Regions from separate parts of the Homo sapiens genome. Here region 1 is linked to region 2. The links come from fine-mapping of genetic effects on gene expression. A gene starts in region 2. The other region holds a variant in brackets. All regions are shown on one strand. Distances are from middle to middle.

Region 1 (8,304 bases), 110 kb after region 2:
TGGCCCCTGCCCCGCGCCTGTGCACACACACACGTGCCACCGGGGATGGCCCCTGCCCCAAGCCCGTGCACACATGTGCCACCGGGGATGGCCCCTGCCCCGCGCCTGTGCACACACACACGTGCCACTGGGGATGGCCCCTGCCCCGCGCCTGTGCACACACACACGTGCCACTGGGGATGGCCCCTGCCCCGTGCCGGTGCACACACCTACGTGCCACTGGGGATGGCCCCTGCCCCACACACGTGCACACGCCTGTGTGTGGCTCCTGCAAGCTGGGTGTGTGCTGGTGTGCACTGGCATGCTGGCTTGTGCAGTGTGGATGTGCATGTGTGTGCAGGTACCATCTGCCCATGTGAGGGTGTGCACGTATACACGCGCGTGTGGGAGTGTGCTCGGCACCATCTGCCCACGTGAGGGTGTGCACACGTACGTGCGTGTGCGGGCGTGTGCTCGGCGCCACCTGTCCACGTGAGGGTGTGCGCGTGTGTGCGTGTGCGGGCGTGTGCTCGAGGGGGGGGCCATCTGCCCACGTGAGGGTGTGCGCGTGTACGTGCGTGTGCGGGCGTGTGCTCGAGGGGCCCTGGCCTGCATTGGCTCTTCTGGCTGGGGAGGAGGGGGCCTGCTGGGGAAACCATGCTGGAGCCCCTGCGGGACCGAGCAGCTCCACCCCATCCTCCAGAGGCTGGACCGCACAGCATCCCCGTCCACGAGCAGCATCGACTCCGCCACCGACACTCGGGAGCGTGGCGTGAAGGGCGAGAGTGTGCTGCAGCGTGTGCAGAGTGTGGCCGGCAACAGCCAGTGCGGCGACTGCGGCCAGCCGGACCCCCGCTGGGCCAGCATCAACCTGGGCGTGCTGCTCTGCATTGAGTGCTCCGGCATCCACAGGTGGGCCCCTGAGGGCCAGGCTGGGGGTGGGGGTTGGGCTGGAGCATCCACAGGTGGGCCCCTGAGGGCCAGGCCGGGGGTGGGGGTTGGGCCGGAGCTGGGGGCCTTGCCTCCCCCAGACTCATCCCTACCTCTGCTCTCCAGGAGCCTGGGTGTCCACTGCTCCAAGGTGCGGTCCCTGACGCTGGACTCGTGGGAGCCTGAGCTGCTAAAGGTGCGTGTGGGGCTCCTGGAGGCCACGGGACCCCGTTTGTGGGGGCGGGAGCTGGGGTCTGCAGGTTCGCACTGATGCCTGCTCGCCCTGTCTCCCGCTAGCTGATGTGTGAGCTTGGAAACAGCGCTGTGAATCAGATCTATGAGGCCCAGTGTGAGGGTGCAGGCAGCAGGAAACCCACAGCCAGCAGCTCCCGGTGAGGTGGGGTACAGTCTGGATCAGTCAGGGAGCCCCAGCCTGGGGGCACAGCCTCATGTTCCCCCCTGGTCCAGGCAGGACAAGGAGGCCTGGATCAAGGACAAATACGTGGAAAAGAAGTTTCTGCGGAAGGCGCCCATGGCACCAGCCCTGGAGGCCCCAAGACGCTGGAGGGTGCAGAAGTGCCTGCGGCCCCACAGCTCTCCCCGCGCTCCCACTGCCCGCCGCAAGGTCCGGCTTGAGCCCGTTCTGCCCTGTGTGGCCGCTCTGTCCTCAGGTGGGAGGCCATGCCCCGGCAGGGCTGGGAGGGGCTTGCCTTGGTCGGGGATGGACTCCGTCAAGGGGCTGGTGGCAGGGCTCTGGGGGCACCTCAGGCTCCGCAGACTCCCGGCGTGACCTGGGGTTCCCTGCCCCACCCCGGGCCTGTTCCACACTCTGAACACGCACTGCCCCTGCAGTGGGCACCCTGGATCGTAAGTTCCGCCGAGACTCCCTCTTCTGTCCCGACGAGCTGGACTCGCTCTTCTCCTACTTCGACGCAGGGGCCGCAGGGGCTGGCCCTCGCAGTAAGTGTGGGGTGGGCCCAGCCAGGTGGCAGGGCAGGGCCAAGGAGGCTGGCCTGAAGGGTGCCTGAGTGTGGATGGCCCTTGCCAGGGAATGGAGCAGCATCTGAAGGGGCGGGGGGCCTCCTGGCCACACAGCTGGAGGCCAAGGCCCTGACTGTCAGGGGTGAGCTGTGCAAATGTGTGTGTGGGCTGTGTGCACCTGGGTGTGTGCACACAGCGGGTGGCCCGGGGTGCTGGGGAAGCAGAGGGCGCTGCCAGCCGGCCCTCAGCCTAGGGCCCTTCTGGAGCCATGCTGCCCGTTGGTTGGGTGGAGACATTTCAGCCTGGGCCAGCCACAGACGGGGCTGGGGGGCCCACTGCGGGGGGTGCCGGGTAAGGCGGCGAGCGGGAGGGAAGGGCTTCCCAAAAGGCCTGGGCTTTAGGGGGCTACCCCTGGCACCTTTGAGCTGTTATTTGGTTTTCTCTCCTTTGCTCCTAGCCTGCAGCTGGCTCCCCCCGGCCCTGGGTGGGAGCTGGTCCTGTCCCTAGGGGTGGCCCCTGGAGGGTGGGTGGAGTTCCAGCCTTGCCCCAGGGCTCTGGACGGAGTCTGGGCCTCCCACCCTCAGGACCCCCTTCCCTGCGGACCTGCAGGTCTGAGTAGCGACAGTGGCCTTGGGGGCAGCTCGGATGGCAGCTCGGACGTCCTGGCTTTCGGCTCGGGCTCTGTGGTGGACAGCGTCACTGAGGAGGGTGGGTGGCGTCTTGCCCTCGCCCGAGGCCCCTGCCCAGCCCCTGGGCAGCCCCGGGGGTTGCTTTCCCTGACCGCCCCCTCCCCACAGAGGGTGCAGAGTCGGAGGAGTCCAGCGGTGAGGCAGACGGGGACACTGAGGCCGAGGCCTGGGGCCTGGCGGACGTGCGCGAGCTGCACCCGGGGCTCTTGGCGCACCGCGCAGCGCGTGCCCGCGACCTTCCTGCGCTGGCGGCGGCGCTGGCCCACGGGGCCGAGGTCAACTGGGCGGACGCGGAGGATGAGGGCAAGACGCCGCTGGTGCAGGCCGTGCTAGGGGTGAGCGAGCCACGGGGGCTGCGCGCAGGACACAGGTGCACAGTCGCGTTTGCATCTTCTGTGGCGCCCACACAAGGGTCGCCTGTCCGCGGTGGGGACCACGTTCGGTCCCGGCTGGGGGCGCCCAAGGCCGGGGTCAGGGTGCAGAGGCGCGGAGAGGGGCCGGTGCCGTGGCTCCGTCTGAGTTGCCCCGGCTCCCCAGGGCTCCTTGATCGTCTGTGAGTTCCTGCTGCAAAACGGAGCGGACGTGAACCAAAGAGACAGCCGGGGCCGGGCGCCCCTGCACCACGCCACGCTGCTGGGCCGCACCGGGTGAGACGCGCAACCCACGCCCCGCCCTGTGCCCCGACCACGCCTACCCCGGCCCGGCTACGCCCTGTCCGCCATGCCCTATCCGGCCACGCCCCCGCGACCACACTCGCCCCGCCCCGCCCCGCCCCGACACGCCCCTCCGACCTCGCCCCTCAGCCAGGTTTGCCTGTTCCTGAAGCGGGGCGCGGACCAGCACGCCCTGGACCAAGAGCAGCGGGACCCGTTGGCCATCGCAGTGCAGGCGGCCAACGCTGACATCGTGACACTGTGAGCGCGGCCGGGCCCTCGGGGCTGGGCGGGGCCTCCAGGGCAGGGGCGGGGCCTCCAGGGCAGGGGCGGGGCCTCCAGGGCAGGGGCGTCTCACGCTGTGCCTCCCCGTAGGCTCCGTCTGGCGCGCATGGCGGAGGAAATGCGCGAGGCCGAGGCTGCCCCTGGTCCCCCGGGCGCCCTGGCGGGCAGCCCCACGGAGCTCCAGTTCCGCAGGTGTATCCAGGAGTTCATCAGCCTCCACCTGGAAGAGAGCTAGGGCCGGGCAGGCCGGGCAGCTGCCACCCCGCCCGGCCCGACGCCCCGCATGCCCCGAAGTCCCTGGCGCCCACCCGGCCGCGGCCCTGCGTGTGACCCGCGGGTCGATACCTGGCAGCCCCAGTGCTGGGGCGCCGCGGCCCTGCTCGCCCAGGAGGAGAGCGAGGGCCCCACACTGAGTCTCTTGAAGCCTCACGTTTCCCTGGGGGGGTGCTGCATCGTCGGGTGTCCCTCACCCCACCTGGGGAACCTCTGTCTTCAGGTCACCCCTTTTCAGGGGCCTGGGTTGCTCATGTCACAAGCCACTTTTAAGGCCCGTGTCACCTGTGTCCCTGTGTCCTCAGGGCCTGTGTTACTTCGTGCCCCACTTCTGCCCAGAACACTGACCTGTTAGCTGGCTCCCTCCTGCACACCCCAGAGCCTCCTCCCAGGGCAGAAAGGGTGGCCCATCCAGGGAACCAACGAGTACCTCACTTAGTGACCCCAGCATCCAGGCTGGCGTCGCGGGTGCTGGGCGGGAGGGGCTCTGGCCTGGGTCCTCAGCCCTGGCTGGACGCGGGCGTCCCAAGGCCACGTGGCTGGCCACGAAGGTCCCCGTGCCAGACAGCCCCAGCCGCATCCCGGCCTCCTCCGGAGGCACCTTCTCCTGGTACTCGGCCCAGAGCCTGCGCATAAAGCCACTTTGCCACTTTGCAGCCCTCATCTCATGTTCTTTGTAGCGGACCGAGTGGGTTTGCTATAGGCCTCGTCTGACTTTGTCTTGCGTCTTTTCTCTGTGGACTCTTGAGGACGCCTGAGCCCCAGCCCTGCCCCTGACCAGCCTCCCCCTTGGGTCCAGGGGTCTTTCGGCTCATATTGCAGGGCCTGCCAATGCCTTCACGCACCCCTTCCCCAAAGGTGCCCGGCAGGGAGGCAGGGCCTCCCCCACTCAGCGCAGGTCAGGCTAAGGCCAGTCGGCTGGTCACTATGCAATGCTGCCCTGGGGAGGCTCCCTGAGGGCACAGTGGGCGCTGGACCCGGCCCCCCAACTCTCTTGCCTGCTGCCTGTGACCCTGAAGAACAGAATTGATTCTTGCCCCTCTCCCTGTGTGAGCTTG[G/A]CCCCGCCTCTTGCCCCAGGCCCCTGCTGGCGGGTCTCACCCCCCACCCCTCGCTTTGAATAAAGCACTTGCGCCCACTGCCTGCTCCTGGGCTCCCGTGCCTTGCTCTGCTCTGTCTCCGGGGAGTGTCTGTGTCCCTTGCCCTCCCCGAGGGGCATTCCTGAGCCGGGTAGCACTCACTCAAGTCAGACTCCAACAGGCCGCAAGGGGCCTGATGGGGACCTGGGGCTCGTTTGACAAAATCTGGGTCCTGATGCCCCTGGTCCCCATTGTCTCGCCCTTCTACCCTTCTCTGTCCTAGACTGAGTTTCCTGGTGGGAAGAGGGGTGGACGCGAACCGGCGAGGCTAGGCTGGGGCTCGTCCCGCCAGGTGCAGTCAGGGTTTCAGCTCACCGGGCGCGGGGCGGCTGGAGGGGCACACAGGCACACACTGGCCGCCAGGTGGAGTCAACAGCTTTATTTCAGAGCAGCCCAAGTGTGTCCGTGGGGCCTGCCTTGCCTTCTGCCTCCCTGCAGCTGAGGTGGCTAGGCTTGACACACGTACACAGGTGCATCAGACGTGTGGACATGCAGACACAGACACACGGAGCATGGGTACATCACCGCGTGTCGGCACGTCCAGCCGCACTCGTGTGCACGCGGGAACCCCCCTCCGCCCCGGGCCTCCTTGAGACCCACCCCAGGCAGTGTAGGTGGTTTGACCAGAGGCGCCGACATGCCCGGTGCCTGCCTCCCCACGGCCGCGTGTGCTGCTTCCTGGGCTGCTGGTCTGGCCCACCCTGGGCCGCTGGGGAGCCTGCTGCTGCCACAGCTGCAAGGACCAGGCCAAGAGATCGCACAGCCCTGGCAGGTCTGGTTCAGGTGTCCAGAGTCTCAAGGGGCTGGGGCCCAGCCCAGCTCTCTTCGGCTGAGACTCCCGCCAGAACCCCTGGAAGCATCACCCGTGGGAGATGAGGCCCGCTGGGCTCCGGGTCATCTGACGTGCCGCCTGCAGGCGGGGGCATCTGACTGGCCTCTGGCTTGATGCTGGACGCCCCTGAGGCAGGGCTGGCTCTGGGCCAGGAGAACCACGCCCTGCGGAGCCGGCGGCCGCCTAGCACCAGGGTGAGGGCAGAAGCATCGAGCAGCAGCTCCAGGAGCTCCAGGAGGGAGAGGACGGAGGCCCCAAACCACAGGCTGCAGAGGCTGCCCATGGCCGAGAGCAGCTGCGGCACCTGCGGGTGGGGTGCGGGTGTGAGGGGCGGGCCCAGGCCCCCGTGCCCCTTCTGTGCAGGGCCAGCCACTGTCGCTGCCCCCGCTCTAGCCCAGGCAGGGGGCCAAGGCTCACCGAGTACACGGGCGCCTCCTCCACTGAGCGGTAGTTGAGCTCCTGGTAGACGATGTTGATTTTGGCCAGGCTGCTCCTGGGGCAGGATAGAGGCATGAGGGCGCTGGCCCAGACCTTCATGATGGGGAGGGGGGCTTTGAGGGGAGAGGGGCTGTGATGCCTCTCTGGAGGGGGAGGGTGCACCCACCTCTGTCTGTGGCTCTGATGCGGCAGCCCCTGTTCACCTAGCGTGGCCAGAGTCCATCCCTGCAGACGGAAGGTTTGCTGTGGCCACGGCTCCCCCATGCCCCCGGCCATCCTGGGTACCACGGGCGGATGTGGGGGCAGAGACCACGGGGCATAGGCTGGGTCAGTTCCGGCCCTGCCCTTGTCTTGGGTGGGCTCTGTGGGACCTGTGGGGTCTGCCTGGCTGTCCACACCCCCACCCCACCACTTTGGGGACTCACAGCTGACTTGGCGGAAGGCCACCTGGAGGTCCCAGTGGAGAGCTTGAATGCAGACTCCCTGGAAGAGACAGCCGGGTGTCACCTGCCACGCTACCTGGGGCAATGATCCCTGGCCGCGACCCCAACACCCCCGTCTCACCTGCAGGGCCTGGGGCAGCGGGAGGTACAGGGGAGCCGGTGGGTCTCCAGGTCCTGGTAGAGGCGGTAGAAGCAGTGTCCTTGGGGAGGGGTCAGAGGCATGTGTGAGGCTCGCTGTGACCCCCCGGCTAATGGCTGACAGAGTGGGAGGCAGCGAGCAGGACTCACCCCAGGCAGGGTGCCGGGCAGAGCTGCAGTACTCAGCCCCCGCCGGCAGAGGGTGGAGGTAGTAGCCACAGGAGCAGGTCTCCACCATCAGCTGCTGGAAGCAGGACACCAGGCAGGCCTGGGGACAGGGGGGATGAGCAGGGACATGGGATGGAGCGGAGACATGGGGGACGGGGCAGAGACACGGGACGGAGCAGGGACACGGGACGGAGCAGGGACACGGGACGGAGCAGAGACACGGGACGGAGCAGAGACACGGGGGACGGAGCAGAGACACGGGACGGAGCAGAGACACGGGACGGAGCAGAGACACGGGACGGAGCAGAGACACGGGACGGAGCAGGGACACGGGACGGAGCAGAGACACGGGACGGAGCAGGGACACGGGACGGAGCAGGGACACGGGACGGAGCAGACACGGGGGACGGAGCAGAGACACGGGACGGAGCAGAGACACGGGGGACGGGGCAGAGACACGGGACGGAGCAGAGACACGGGACGGAGCAGAGACACGGGACGGAGCAGAGACTCGGGGGACGGACACGGGACGGGGCAGAGACACGGGGGACGGAGCAGAGACACGGGACGGAGCAGGGACACGGGGGACGGAGCAGAGACACGGGACGGAGCAGAGACACGGGGGACGGAGCAGAGACACGGGGGACGGAGCAGGGACACGGGACGGAGCAGAGACACGGGACGGAGCAGAGACTCGGGGGACGGAGCAGGGACACGGGACGGAGCAGAGACACGGGACGGAGCAGAGACACGGGACGGAGCAGAGACACGGGACGGAGCAGAGACACGGGACGGAGCAGGGACACGGGACGGAGCAGGGACACGGGACGGAGCAGGGACACGGGACGGAGCAGACACGGGGGACGGAGCAGAGACACGGGACGGAGCAGAGACACGGGGGACGGGGCAGAGACACGGGACGGAGCAGAGACACGGGGGACGGAGCAGAGACACGGGACGGAGCAGAGACACGGGGGACGGAGCAGAGACACGGGACGGAGCAGAGACACGGGGGACGGAGCAGAGACACGGGGGACGGAGCAGGGACACGGGACGGGGCAGAGACACGGGACGGGGCAGGGACACGGGACGGAGCAGGGACACGGGGGACGGAGCAGAGACACGGGACGGAGCAGAGACACGGGGGACGGAGCAGAGACACGGGACGGAGCAGAGACACGGGGGACGGAGCAGAGACACGGGGGACGGAGCAGGGACACGGGACGGGGCAGAGACACGGGACGGAGCAGGGACACGGGACGGAGCAGGGACACGGGGGACGGAGCAGAGACTCGGGGGACGGAGCAGAGACACGGGACGGAGCAGAGACTCGGGGGACGGAGCAGGGACACGGGACGG
Region 2 (8,309 bases):
GCCCGCCACCCCGCCCAGCTAATTTTTTGTATTTTTAGTAGAGACAGGGTTTCACCGTGTTATCCAAGATGGTCTCAATCTCCTGATTTCATAATCTGCCCACCTTGGCCTCCCAAAGTGCTGGGATTACAGGCATGAGCCACTGAGCCCGGCCTTTCTTTTCTTTTTTAAATGGAGTTTCGCTCTCATTGCCCAGGCTGGAGTGCAATGGCGCAATCTCGGATCACTGGCAACCTCTGCCTCCTGGGTTCAAGCAATTCTCCTGCCTCAGCCTTCGGAGTAGCTGGGATTACAGGCGCCTGCCACCACACCTAGTTAATTTTTTGTTTTTTAGTAGAGATGGGGTTTCACCATGTTGGCCAGGGTGGTCTTGAACTCCTAACCTCAGGTGATCCGCCTGCCTTGGCCTCCCAAAGTGCTGGGATTACAGGCGTGAGCCACTGCGCCCGGCCAAGATGGCATTTTTCAAGCTGGCCCATTCTGAGCTGCTCACCCCGCCCTCCCTGCCTTTCCCACAGAATCCCCAGCCAAGGCTCTGGCCTTAGCTTTCTCCCCTCTCTCTGCCTCCTGACAAAACACCGGGGCTTCTCATGTCGCCCTGCATAGTGTGAGTGTAGGGGTGGGTTGCCCCTCCACACCTGTGGGTGTTTCTCGTAAGGTGGAACGAGAGACTTAGGAAAGAAAAAGACACAGAGACAAAGTATAGAGAAAGAAATAAGGGGACCCGGGGAACCAGCGTTCAGCACATGGAGGATCCCGCCAGCCTCTGCGTTCCCTTAGTATTTATTGATCATTTGTGGGTGTTTCTCAAAGAGGGGGATGTGTCACGGTCACAAGACAATTGTGGGGAGAGGGTCAGCAGACAAACACGTGAACAAAGGTCTTTGCATCATAGACAATGTAAAGGATTAAGTGCTGTGCTTTAGATATGCATACACATAAACATCTCAATGCTTTACAAAGCAGTATTGCTGCCCGCGGGTCCCACCTCCAGCCCTAAGGCGGTTTTTCCCCATCTCAGTAGATGGAACATACAATCGGGTTTTATACTGAGACATTCCATTGCCCAGGGACAGGCAGGAGACAGATGCCTTCCTCTTGTCTCAACTGCAAGAGGCATTCCTTCCTCTTATACTAATCCTCCTCAGCACAGACCCTTTACGGGTGTCGGGCTGGGGGACGGTCAGGTCTTTCCCTTCCCACGAGGCCATATTTCAGACTATCACATGGGGAGAAACCTTGGACAATACCTGGCTTTCCTAGGCAGAGGACCCTGCGGCCTTCCGCAGTTTCTGTGTCCCTGGGTACTTGAGATTAGGGAGTGGTGATGACTCTTAAGGAGCGTGCTGCCTTCAAGCATCTGTTTAACAAAGCACATCTTGCACCGCCCTTAATCCATTTAACCCTGAGTGGACGTAGCACATGTTTCAGAGAGCACGGGGTTGGGGGTAAGGTCACAGATCAACAGGATCCCAAGGCAGAAGAATTTTTCTTAGTACAGAACAAAATGGAGTCTCCTATGTCTACTTCTTTCTACACAGACACAGTAACAATCTGATCTCTCTTGCTTTTCCCCACAGTGAGTGTCCCCATCGCTCAGGAAATGCGAGTAATAAAAATCTCCAATAACAACAGCTTCTCCATGTCTCCAGTCAGTCATGTCCATAAACTGAAAATCCTGCAGGTAGGCCAGTTGTGTCTGTAATCCCAGCACTTTGGGAGGCCAGTTTTGAGACCAGCCTGGGCAACATGGTGAAACTCCATTTCTACCAAAAATACAAAAATTGGCCAGGCATGCACTTGTGGTTCAGCTACTCAGGAGGTCGAGGTGGGAAGATCACTCAAGCCCAGGAGGCAGAGGCTGCAATGAGCTGAGATGGCGCCACTGCACTCCAGACTGGGTGAGAGTGAGACCCCATCTGAAAAAAAAAAAGTAGTTTTTCTTCTTCTTGTTTTTTGAGACAAGGTCTTGATCTGTCACCCACGCTAGAGTGCAGTGGTGCGATCTTGGCTCACTGCAGCCTTGGCCTCCCGGGTTCAAGCAATTCTCCCACCTCAGCTGGGATTACTGGGGCCCGCTACCACGCCCGGCTACTTTTTGCATTTTTAGTAGAGATGGGGTTCCACCATGTTGGCCAGGCTGGTCTCGGATTTCTGACCTCAGGTGATCCACCTGCCTCGGCCTCCCAAAGTGTTGTGCAGAGCCACTGCACCCGGCCTCCTCTTTTTTTTTAAGATGGAGTTTTGCTAGTTTCCGAGGCTGGAGTGCAATGAATGGCGGGATCTCGGCTCACCGCAAACTCTGCCTCCCGGGTTCAAGCGATTCTCCTGCCTCAGCCTCCTGAGTAGCTGACCATGTTGGTCAGCCTGGTCATTTAAGGTCGGGAGTTCGAGACCAGCCTGGCCAACATTGTGAAATCCCGTCTCTACTAAAAATACAAAAATTAGCTGGGAGTGGCGGTGTGCGCCTGTAATCCCAGATACTCGGGAGGCTGAGGCAGGAGAATCACTTGAACCGGGTAGGCAGAGGTTGCGGTCAGCCGAGATCGCACCTTTGTACTCCAGACTGGGCGACGGAGCAAAACTCCGTCTCAAAAACAGAAAAAAACAAAACAAAACAAGAAACACAACAACAAATGCAGTGCGTCATCCTAGACTGAATCCTCAACAGGGAAAAAAAGGTATAAAAGACATTTGAAGCGAGTTAAATCTGGAGTGTGGGCTGGGTCCGGATTTTGACCATTCTACGGTGTGGTTCCTAAGAGTAAATACACAGCAAAGTGTTTAGGTGTCTCCAGCGTCTCAAATGGTTTAGGAAAAAAATCCATTATGTTTATATTTACAGAGAGAATGATTCAAAAATGGAGCAAAACGTAAATAGTAGGTGAATTTGGTTCGAGAGTATTAAACAAATGGAACAAATGAAAACAGCTGGCACATTTTGGTAGTGAACACTGGGGAGTTTTCCTTGTACTTGTATTCCAACTCTTCTATGATTTAAAAAATATCCAAGTATAATAAACTGTTATAAAGAAACTGCACACCCCCAATTTTTCGATAATATAGCAGAAATATAAAATTACACATAATATAAAACTTCTTATTTTTTTGGGACAGACTCTGGCTCCGCTGCCCAGGCTGTTGTGCGGTGGTGCAATCTGAGCTCACTGCAGCCTCCACCTCCAGAGCTCAGGCGAGCCTCCCGTCTCAGCCTCCTGAGTAGCTGGGACCTCAGGCGCGCGCCACCACCGCTCCCGGCTAATTTCTTTTTGATTTTTTGTAGAGATGGGGTCTCACTATGTTGCCCAGGCTGGTATTGAACTCCTGGACTCAAGTGTTCCTCCCCCCTCGGCCTCCGAAAGTGCTGGGATTACAGGCATCAGCACCACAGCGATCACATTTACCATTTCGAAGCTGAGAATTTCCAGGCATGGCGCGGTGGCTCAGGCCTGTAATCCCAGCAGAAGCCAGCAGTCCGAGAACAGCCTGGCCAACGCGGGAAGACGCCCCCTCTACAAAAAACACAAAAAATTAGCCGGGCGTGGCGGCGCGCGCCTGACGTCCCAGCTACTAGGAAGGCAGAGGCCGCGGCGAGCCGAGGTCGGGCCGCTGCACCCCAGCCAGGGCGACCGGGCGAGACCCCGTCTCAAAATGAGTAAGTAAACAAAGTGCAAGGTTCAGAGGCAACGGGCACTTTCACACCGATGCGACCATCTCCACCTCGGTTCCTGAACATCCTCGTGGCCCCAGGGGGCGGCCTGCCCCTCCCCGCCCGCGCCGCACCCGAGCTCCCCGGCCGCGGGGCCCCCGACCCGGGTCCGCTGCCCTCACGGTGCCCTCGGAGCCACAGCTGCGGCCGGGGCCGTGCTCCGGGACGGTCCGCGTGCGCTGCTGTTTATCCATCGTCCGCGAATAGCCACGGGCGCTGCGGCCCCGTTCTCCTTTCAGTCCCCGCCGCGGCCCCACATCCGCTCCCCAACACGCACCACCACCGCGAGTTCAGGAGCACAACTGGGCACCCGCGGGCTGACGGGAGACGACCTTCGCCCCGGAAGTATCGCAGGGGCTGACCCGGAAGCGCTCGTGACCACCATTTCCGACCCGGGCAAGATGGCAGCGGCGCTGCGCGTGCGTTGTTGAGTGTTCGGGACGCCGGCCTGCAGGCGCCATGGTCTTCCTCACCGCGCAGCTCTGGCTGCGGAATCGCGTCACCGACCGCTACTTTCGGATCCAGGAGGTGCTGAAGCACGCCAGGGTGAGTGCCGCCTGCCCGGCCTGGGCACTGGGCGCCCGGGGTATCCCGCGGGCCAAGGGGCGGCCGGCGCGGGCCCCGCTGACAACCCTGGTTTCTCGTTTTCTGTCCCAGCACTTCCGGGGAAGGAAAAATCGCTGCTACAGGTTGGCGGTCAGAACCGTGATTCGAGCCTTTGTGAAATGCACCAAAGCCCGATACCTGAAGAAAAAGAACATGAGGACCGTAAGCGTGGACCCGGGACACCCGCCGGCCAGCGCACTCGCGGCCCCTGCGTTTCTGCGCCGCGACCCAGCTAGTGTGCAGCCGCCCGGCCACCCTCAGCCCCTTCCTTTCATACCTTGCTTCGAAACTCCGACAAATTATGTCGCCCCGCAGGCAAACTGTGGGACATCCGTTCTCCCGCCCCGCCGCCACCCCCACTGTCACCCCCTGCTCCAGCCCCTCGCCCGGGCCACTGCAGAGCCGCCTTGACACTCTCCCTGCGTCGCCAGCCACCGCCCTAGTCGCTGCTGCTCTCATCCCTCCGGTGGCTTCCCTTCCCTTTGGCAGCTGAAGTCAACCCAGCCCCTTGCCAACCCTCCAGGGCTACTATCTGCTGCCGTGGTGCTCCTCGAAGAGACCACGCCTGCTGCCAAGCTCTGCCCACCCGGAACCCCCCGCATTTCTGGGAGGCTGGCGCCTCCACTCTGTCCACGTGCCGCCTCATTACTGCGCCTCACCACTCCCGTCTCAGCCTCATGAACCTAGCATCTAACGTACCCCGGTTTTTTTTTCTTACCCCGAGACGGAGTCTCGCGCTGTCACCCAGGCTGGAGTGCAATGGCGCGATCTAGGCTTAATGCAACCTCGTCTCCCGGGTTCAAGCGATTTTCCCGCCCCAGTCTCCCGAGTAACTGTGACTGCAGGTGTGCGCCACCAAGCTATTTTTTGTATTTTTAGTAGAGACCGGGTTCCGCCATGTTGGTCAGGCTGGTCTCGAACTCCAGATCTGAAATGATCTGCCTGCCTTGCCCTCCCAAAGTGCTGGGATTACAGGCGTGAGACACCGTGCCCAGCTGGGTTTTTGCTGTTTTTAATTTTGAAACAGGGTCTTGATTTCGCTTAGGCCAGAGTGATGGCACCATCATAGCTCACTGATTTTGCTATTTACTTTTAGAAAAATATTCTTTAGATCAATTAGAGGCTTTGCTGGGACATAACATCCAGAAGTCATTTTTAAGTATCTTCATGTTTTCTTATTTCAGCTCTGGATTAATCGAATTACAGCTGCTAGCCAGGAACATGGACTGAAGTATCCAGCGCTCATTGGGAATTTAGTTAAGGTATGGGTGAGTATGTGGGTCCCACTGAAATTCTGGACATCTGCAGAAACCATCATGCGGGGCGTGGTGGTGCTTCCTGTAGTCCCAGCTAATCAGGAGGCTGAGGCCAGAGGATCCCTGGAGACTGACTTCTGGGCTGTAGTTTGCTATGCTGATGGGGTGTCCATGTTAAGTGTGGTATCAATATGGTGACCTCTTGGGAGCAAGGGACCACCACGTTGCCTAAGGAGGGGTGAACCAGCCCAGGCTGGAAACGGAGCAGGTCACAATTCCCATGTTGATGAGTGATGAGATTGTGCCTAGGAATAGTGCCAGCAACAGCCTGGGCAACATAGTGAGACCACTCTCTACAAAAAAATAAAATTTGCTGGGTGTGGTGGTACAGAGACATGTAATGTCAGCTACTGAGGAGTCTGAAGCAGGGGGATCACTTTGAGCCCCCAGGAGTTTGAAGCTGCAGTGAGCTATGATGGTACCACTGCACTCTAGCCTAGGTGAGAGCAGGACCCCGTCTGACAGAATAAAGAAAGCCATGGCTGGGCAGGGTGGCTCAGGCCTGTGATCCCAGCACTTTGGGAGGCTGAGGTGGGCAGGAGATGGAGACTAGCCTGGCCAACGTGGTGAAACCCTGTCTCTACTAAAAATACAAAAATTAGCCAGGTGTGGTGGCGGGCACCTAGAATTCCAGCTACTCTGGAGGCTGAGGCAGGAGAATTGCTTGAATTTGGGAGGCGGAGGCTGCAGTGAGCCGAGATCATGCCACTGCACTCCAGCCTGGGCAACAGAGCAAGACTCCATCTCTAAAAGTAAATAAATCAAACCCTCCCATCAGACCTGGCGCAGCCTGTTAGCAGTCCATGTGGCAGAGGCGAGGAGTGCCACTCCAGCTGCACCGTAGCTGCACTCTGTCTTGGTGTGGGGTTCTGGCAGGTCTGGGAGCTTACCGCACTGGTTGGCAGCAGAGCAGAATTGGAAACAGGGCACGTCTTTCTGGGATGTAAGTCCTGATGTTTCCCCATTAAGAAAAAAGGCCAGGCATCCCAACACTTTGGAAGGCTGAGGCGGACAGATCATGAGGTCAGGATATTGAGACCATCCTGGCTAACAGGTGAAACCCGGTCTCTACTAAAAATACGAAAAATTAGCTGGGCATGGTGGCCGGCACCTGTAGTCCCAGCTACTCAGGAGGCTGAGGCTGGAGAATCGCTTGAACTTGGGAGGCAGAGGCTGCAGTGAGCCGAGTTCACGCCACTGCACTGCAGCCTGGGCAACAGAGTGAGACTCTGTCTCAAAAAAAAAAAAAAGTGTAGAAAAACTTGACTTTAACTTCAAAGTTTAATTTGAAAGTTTAAACAGGCCAGGCGCGGTGGCTCACACCTGTAATCCCAGCACTTTGGGAGGCTGAGGCAGGTGGATCACAAGGTCAGGAGATCGAGACCATCCTGGCTAACATGGTGAAACCCCGACTCTACTAAAAATACAAAAAAATTAGCCAGGCGTGGTGGCGGGCATCTGTAGTCCCAGCTACTCGGGAGGCTGAGGCAGGAGAATGGCGTGAACCCGGGAGACGGAGATTGCAGTGAGCTGAGATCGCGCCACTGCACTCCAGGCTGGTCGACAGAGCGAGACTCCATCTCAAAAAAAAAAAAAAGTTAAAACAATGAGGCTGGGTGCGGTGGCTTACACTTGTAATCCCAGTATGTTGAGAGGCAGAGGCAGAGGCGGGCTGATCACCTGACATCAGGAGTTCGACAGCAGCCTGGGCAATGTGGTAAAACTCTGTCTCTATTCAAAATACAAAATGAGCCAGGCGTGGTGCTGGCATGCGCCTGTATGCTACTCGGGAGGCTGAGGCAGGAGATTGGCTTGAATCCAGAAGGCAGAAGTTGCAGTGGGCTGAGATCACACCAGTGTACTCCAGCGTGGGCGACAGTGTGTGACTGTGTCTCAACAACAACAAAAAGTTTTAATAATGAGTGATTTCTGATGACATAGCAGGTGAAATAGGAACTTACAGAAAGGAAGGGGAATGTTTTGGAGCGAACGGATGGTTTATGCAAGTGTAGCAAAATCTTGGTGATTACTGAATCTGGTCATTATGCTAGTCCCTCTGCTTGTGTACATTAAGTTTTTCCTAAAAGGTTGAGGGGGTGGGTATTTTGCAGAAGGCACTCTTTGGTGCTTTACAAAGATCTTCAGGGTAGGCTTAGGAGGTTTGACTTTCCCATTTTACTCAGGGAACTGTAGTTAAGAAAGGAGACATACTTGGCCGGGCACGGTGGCTCACGCCTGTAATCCCAGCACTTTGTGAGGCTGAGGCGGGTGGATCACGAGGTCAGGAGATCGAGACCATCCTGGCTAACATGGTGAAACACCATCTCTACTAAAAATACAAAAAGTAGCCAGGTGCGGTGGCGGGCACCTGTAGTCCCAGCTACTTGTGAGGCTGAGGCAGGAGAATGGCATGAACCTGGGAGGTGGAGCTTGCAATGAGCTGAGATCGCACCACTGCACTCCAGCTTGGGCGACACAGTGAGACTCTGTTTCAAAAAAAAGAAAGAAAGAAAGGAGACAGACTTTGCACAAAGCATACAGGTCACAGGTAGTACAGTTAGGTCACAGGTAGTAGGCCACTTTGTCCTCGGTAGCCGAATTTTGTGTTTTTGTTCCTTTTTTTTTTTGGATACAATCTCACTCTGTTGCTCAGGCTGGAGTGAAGTGGCGCGATCTTG

What was found.
Region 1: its variant is fine-mapped to the expression of MRPL20 in whole blood (Lepik 2017, PIP 0.94).

Annotation. Positions count from the first base shown.
Region 1 is chr1:1,289,012-1,297,315 of GRCh38, reverse strand. It overlaps SCNN1D (sodium channel epithelial 1 subunit delta), which reads right to left. Exons shown (of 18, transcript NM_001130413.4): 13 at 6,928-7,045; 14 at 6,761-6,839; 15 at 6,622-6,679; 16 at 6,363-6,421; 17 at 6,176-6,251; 18 at 5,291-6,062. The coding sequence ends at 5,706. ACAP3 (ArfGAP with coiled-coil, ankyrin repeat and PH domains 3) reads left to right here. Exons shown (of 24, transcript NM_030649.3): 15 at 683-891; 16 at 1,036-1,105; 17 at 1,207-1,301; 18 at 1,378-1,580; 19 at 1,762-1,869; 20 at 2,500-2,598; 21 at 2,688-2,914; 22 at 3,117-3,226; 23 at 3,383-3,493; 24 at 3,608-4,925. The coding sequence ends at 3,752. It overlaps MIR6726 (microRNA 6726), which reads left to right and starts at 1,146; the gene lies at 1,146-1,206. RefSeq lists enhancers at 1-133, 4,378-4,923, 7,388-7,960, 8,233-8,304 and a silencer at 5,228-5,297. The variant G/A (reference allele first, on the strand shown) is at 4,849.
Region 2 is chr1:1,403,077-1,411,385 of GRCh38, reverse strand. It overlaps MRPL20 (mitochondrial ribosomal protein L20), which reads left to right and starts at 4,093. Exons shown (of 4, transcript NM_017971.4): 1 at 4,093-4,255; 2 at 4,367-4,477; 3 at 5,500-5,577. The coding sequence starts at 4,169. It overlaps MRPL20-DT (MRPL20 divergent transcript), which reads right to left and starts at 3,038. Exons shown (of 1, transcript NR_170330.2): 1 at 702-3,038. It also overlaps the pseudogene RN7SL657P. RefSeq lists enhancers at 1-194, 195-1,083, 1,084-1,971, 2,895-3,561, 4,019-4,148 and 2 more and silencers at 3,649-3,838, 4,319-4,378.